2 separate regions of the Homo sapiens genome follow, and region 1 is linked to region 2. Evidence: fine-mapped expression QTL. Tissue or cell type: thyroid. Region 2 holds a variant in brackets; the other region holds the start of a gene. All regions are shown on one strand. Distances are between the middles of the regions. Region 1 holds the start of LINC01644 (long intergenic non-protein coding RNA 1644). Region 2 overlaps LINC01644 (long intergenic non-protein coding RNA 1644).

The links. PIP is the estimated chance that this variant, and not a neighbour inherited with it, causes the effect.
Region 1: LINC01644 starts here. The variant in region 2 is the best candidate, but not a certain one, in a credible set for the expression of LINC01644 in thyroid (GTEx, PIP 0.52).

Annotation. Positions count from the first base shown.
Region 1 is chr22:47,485,915-47,488,825 of GRCh38, forward strand. LINC01644 (long intergenic non-protein coding RNA 1644) reads right to left here and starts at 1,197. Exons shown (of 3, transcript NR_109967.1): 1 at 816-1,197.
Region 2 is chr22:47,462,209-47,465,119 of GRCh38, forward strand. It overlaps LINC01644 (long intergenic non-protein coding RNA 1644), which reads right to left. Exons shown (of 3, transcript NR_109967.1): 2 at 1,110-1,180. Among named protein-coding and RNA genes, the nearest start is that of LINC01644, 23 kb to the right of the region's middle. The variant C/T (reference allele first, on the strand shown) is at 1,242.

The DNA of each region.
Region 1 (2,911 bases), 24 kb after region 2:
TACTAAAAATACAGAACTTAGCTGGGCATGGTGGCATGAGCCTGTAGTCCCAGCTACTCATGAGGCTGAGGCAGGAGAATCGCTTGAACCAGGGAGTCGGAGATTGCACTGAGCCAAGATCGCACCACTGCACTCCAGCCTGGCGACAGAGTGGGACTCCATTCCAAAAAAAAAAAAAAAAATTACAGAATCTTCCCCTTACCACCACGTCAATAGGGTTCCAGGATAGTAACAGTGGATTACAACCCAGACAGCTGTAAGACACAGGTTCTTATATAAGAAGTTCATAGGAAACCCCGAAGAAAATGGGGAAAAACACAAGAAAACTAAAGCCCCTGGGATATACAACGACAGCAATCATTACACGCAGTCTAACTCCTGGCCAGATTAATATAAAACCTCACACCAAAAGCCTAATTGCCTCCGTTTTTATTACCTGATGCATCATGTCTGGCTTCTAACAAAAAATTAAAAGGCAAGAGAAAAACACAGAACAAGGCTCAGATATAACAAAGATTTGAAAATTATCCAAAAAGGAACTTAAAATATCTGTGAGTCATTGTTATGGGCTCTAATGAAAAAAGTAAATGACATGTAAATGTAAGCAGAGAGATGAAAACTTTAAAAGAATCAAAAGGAAATGCTAGATATCAAATGCCTCAAGACTCATCTGCGATTCCATCCTCAGCCTTGTCACCCCTCGGTCCCCACCCCACCATGGTGCTTGCTGTGTGTTTTCTTGACCTTGCTGTTCACCTAACCCCCTGGAAGGTGCTGTCCCAACCTCACCTGTGTCCCCTTTCTGGGCTGCTTACCTAGACCACTTGGCCTGGGCTGGCTGTGCCCAGGGGGAGGCTGGGAACATCGGCCGGCTACGCCCTGAGGTAGCTCAGATGCCAGTGTCCCACGGTGAGGACACCTCCGAGGCCGGCTCCGTGTCATCTGCTGGATGGGGCTGAACCCCAGTTGTCCTTCATGGGAATCTTCTCCTGAACCTTGCTGTGTGGGCTGCTTTCTCTTCCTTCCACCAGAGCTTCCTGGATGAAGCCCAGCATAAATGTCTTGTGCTTATCCCCATTCTGGAGGCTTCCAAGCAAGCGTAAACTCTGAAAGGGCAGGGGCCGTGAGTGCTGACTGCTTCTCTGGTCACCGTCTCACGGCCTGCCACAGACCTGTGCAGGATAAGGTGGCTACATGAATAACCAAAGGAAGGCGTGGCTGCTGGAGTGAAGTTGTAATGCACACCTACGTGTTCCAGGAAGAGGAAGTTTAGAGTTCACAAACACATCTTAGTGTTTAGACTTACTTCTGAATGTAAAGGCCCCTAGCACAACAGAAAGGGCATTTAAGGAGAGAAAGCTTAGGAACTCTGACACCTAGGAACTTGCTCTGAGATTTCACCACTCCTGTGTCCTTTCGTTAATCTGCCAGATGTTCCTGATCAGCCAATGTTTGGAAGAAGGGTAGTTACTGGTCTGCAGCAGGGCACTGGGGCAGGACGCGAGGAGGAAGGCACTGCTTTGGGCCCGGGCAAGGGCCAACTATATGTGACCCCAGGAGCTCCCCTTTTCCACCCCAGGGGCCCCACCTTTGTGTCCAGAGGCCCCTCTACCTAACTGTGTCCTGCATTCGTGGGTTCTTGGTCTCACTGACTTCAAGAACGAAGCCACGGACCCTTGCAGTGAGTGTTACAGCTCTTAAGGTGGTGCGTCTGGAGTTTGTTCCTTCTGATGTTCGGACGTGTTCGGAGTTTCTTCCTTCTGTGTGGGTTCGTGGTCTAGCTGGCTCAGGAGTGAAGCTACAGACCTTCGCGGTGAGTGTTACAGCTCTTAAGACGGCGCATCTGGAGTTGTTCATCCCTCCCGGTGGGCTCGTGGTCTCGCTGGCTTCAGGAGTGAAGCTGCAAACCTTAGCGGTAAGTGTTACAGCTCATAAAAGCAGTGTGGACCCAAAGAGTTAGCAATAGCAACATTTATTGCAAAGAGCAAAAGAACAAAGCTTCTACAGCGTGAAAAGGGATCCCAGCAGGTTGCCGCTGCTAGCTTGGGCAGCCTGCTTTTATTCACTTATCTGGCCCCACCCACATCCTGCTGATTGGTAGACCCGAGTGGTCTGTTTTGACAGGGCGCTGATTGGTGCGTTTACAATCCCTGAGCTAGACCCAAAGGTTCTCCAAGGCCCCACCAGAATAGCTAGATACAGAGTGTGGACTGGTGCATTCACAAACCCTGAGCTAGACACAGGGTGCTGATTGGTGCATTTACAATCCCTTAGCTAGACATAAAGGTTCTGCAAGTCCCCACCAGACTCAGGAGCCCAGCTGGCTTCATCCAGTGGATTCCGCACCGGGGCTGCAGGTGGAGCTGCCTGCTAGTCCCGCGCCGTGCGCCGGCACTCCTCAGCCCTTGGGCGGTGGATGGGACTGGGCGCCGTGGAGCAGGGGGCGGCGCTCGTCGGGGAGGCTTGGGCCGCACAGGAGCCCATGGAGGGGGTGGGAGGCTCAGGCATGGCGGGCTGCAGGTCCCGAGCCCTGCCCCGCGGGAAGGCAGCTAAGGCCCGGCGAGAAATGGAGCGCAGCGCCAGTGGGCCGGCACTGCTGGGGGACCCAGTACACCCTCCGCAGCCACTGGCCCGGGTGCTAAGCGCCTCACTGCGCGGGGCCGGCAGGGCTGGCCGTCTGCTCCGAGTGCGCGGCCCGCCAAGCCCACGCCCACCCGGAACTCCAGCTGGCCCGCAAGGGCCGCGCGCAGCCCGGGTTCCCGCTCGCGCCTCTCCCTCCACACCTCCCTGCAAGCTGAGGGAGCCGGCTCCGGCCTCGACCAGCCCAGAAAGGGGCTCCCACAGTGCAGCGGTGGGCTGAAGGGCTCCTCAAGTGTCACCAAAGTGGGAGCCCAGGCAGAGGAGGTGCCCA
Region 2 (2,911 bases):
GGGCGTGGTGGCACACGTCTGTAATCCCAGCTACTCAGGAGGTTGAGGCAGGAGAATCACTTGAACCTGGGAGGCAGAGGTGGCAGTGAGCTGAGATCACATCACTGTACTTCAGCCTGGGTAACAGAGACTCTGTCTCAAAAAATAAAAATAAAAAAATAAAAGAAGAAGAAGAAAAAAGCCTGCATTGATTTCCCCATACATTTGCACAAGCTGCAGAACTTGGTTCTTTTATCTTCATTTGGAAACAAGTTGAAACAGCCCTCCAAATTAAGAAAACAACTTTACAAATTCAAGTTTTATGTTCTCTTATTTTAGAAATATTCATGGCCTCAATATGTCTCTCCTAAGTACTTATATAAAAACATTTTTCTCTTCCATTTGCCAATTTATAATGATTTTTTTCATTCTACTTACAACAAAGCAATCATTTCAAATTAATTGTTTTCATTAAAATGTATTATTGTAATGTCCCAGGTACTGAATAGTGATTTTGTTTGACAGAACAAGCCTGAAAGAAAAATATTATACATTTTGCAAGTAGACAATTTCAACCCAATTCCTTCCTCTGGCACGAAGCACAGGGGATTTGCACACAGTAGGTTGAGAGAATAACTAGCAACAATAATTATCAGTGTCATGCATCAGGAGAGTACATTTATAGAGGACTTTCAGAAGTGCACAGCTATTTTGCATATGTTATTTCATTTAATTCCAAGCATTCTTCCACGTAGACCTATTTATCTCTCTTTTTTATTTTTATTGAGAAAACCAAGACCCAGAAATGCGAGGTCACTCACCAAAGGTCACACAGTCTCAAGAGGCAGAGCTGTCATTTGACCCTGGGTCTTTCCACCTCCAGATGCACCTGAGCATGGAGTGTGCAGGGGGAGGTGGGGTCTGGGTCCCAGAAGGAGCTGAGGATCTCCTCACTCTCCCTTCCCAACTTGTTTATTCTCCATTCAAAGCACAGTTATTTTCTTTGCAAGACCAACGAGGTTGATTCAAAATCAGAGTCATTTTAACGTCTTAAAAATATCAAGTAGAGCTTAGAAAATTCAAGCACTAGAGGGAAAAAAATTCTCAAGTTATTTAGAAAGAAAATTTACCTTGATTCTGAGGGTCCTTGAGCTTTCTGCTTTTTGCTCCTTTTTTGGGCCATGCTGAGTGGGGGCCGGGGCTGTGGTGGGAAATTGAGAGTTGCATGAGATCTCCAGATGCTTCTCAGCCCCTCAGTGCCG[C/T]GGAGAAAAGAGGAAAACACTCATCTGGACGATCCGTGTCTTGCAGACTCGGTCTCAAATCCTTTGGGGTGAGAATTCTGAGTCCTGGGGGGCATTTATGAGGGAAGCCACACAGAGTGTTCGCTAGTGGGATGAAGAAAGGAAACCAAACTGGGTTCTTTGGTGCAAAAATAAAATAAATTCTTATTTGTTGATATGGTTTGGCTCTGTGTCCCCACCCAAATCTCATGTTGAATTGTAATCCCTAATGCTGGGGGAGGGACTTGGTGGGAGGGGCTTGGATCATGGGGGTGGAGTTCCCCTTGCTGTTCTGGTGGTAGTGAGTGAGTTCTCATGAGATCCAATGGTTTAAAGGGATGTGGCACTTTCCTCCTCATGTGCTGTCTCTGTCCTGCCACCGTGTGAAGAAGGTTCTTGCTTCCCCCCTTGCCTTCCACCATGATTGTAACTTTCCTGAGGCCTCCCAATCATGCTTCCTGTTAAGCCTGCAGAACTGTGAGTCAATTAAACCTCTTTTCTTCATAAATCGCCCAGTCCCAGATAGTTCTTTATAGCAGTGTGAGAATGGACTAACACACTCGTTCATTATTGAATGCTGTGTTCTTGCTCTGGGTCCTTGTGTTCATTTTCCACCGTATTTCCCTCTCCAGGGTGCCCACGCCCCCTCCCCCATCCCATCCTATTACTGTGCTGAACGCTGTCATCTTCACTCTCATAGTCCCACCAGCAGGGCCAGGGCTCCTCCCTACCCAACCAGCACGCCATCAACACACTTCCTAACACGCTTCCCTCTGTGCCAGCCTGCTTACCTCTAGCTCTTTGCTTGTGACATTTTCTCCAACTAGAACACAGAGCAATAACAGGGAGAGGAAGAGCGTGGCTGATACAGCACGTTCCCTGGACCCAGTAGCCATGAGTTAACCCCCGCTGAGGCATTACTGGTCTCGCCTTGGGCATGGCAATCAGCTCTCTGATGTTCATTGGTAACACCCATAAGAAAACCACCTCACAGGCTCAGGATAACACACTGACATGAACCCTCTTAGCTGGCAACTGGTCCACGCTGATGGAACAAAGGTCATCATTTTGTACCTGACACTACTCCAGTAGTGCTGGGTGAGCCGCTCACCCTTCCCAAAGGATGTGGAATTGAGCCCAGGAACAGGTTCATGTCTCCCAGAGGCTGGACTTGTACCTATAGGATCAGGAGCCACAGGAGGCCACAGGGGAACAGAGGCAAAAAAACCTCAGTAGAAGGAGGAATAGAACCTGGTGTGCAGGAAGAGCAGGGAGATGGACGGAGACTCTGGTCACTTCTGATTCTGATCCCATCCCTTCCTGAGGTCCCATCCACATTCCTGCCCTCGCCATGTAGGATACTCCACAAACCCCATAACTGCCTCCTACTTTTCCTTTACTCTGACCCAAGGACCCATGTTTGTTTCTGTTATTAGTGAGCAGATGATTTCAATCAACATCACGAAGAGGGCAGCCAGTGGAGTGCCTGTCACATGATTGGGGCTCAGTGGCCACAGCCTCCTTCCACACCCCACTTCCAGCTTCCAGCAGCTGGAATCAGACCACTCAGCCAGCATGACCTCAGCCCTAAACGGAACTATCGCCCCTGAGCGAGATTCCCACGGGGCTCCAGAACCAATCTTGTGCACCTC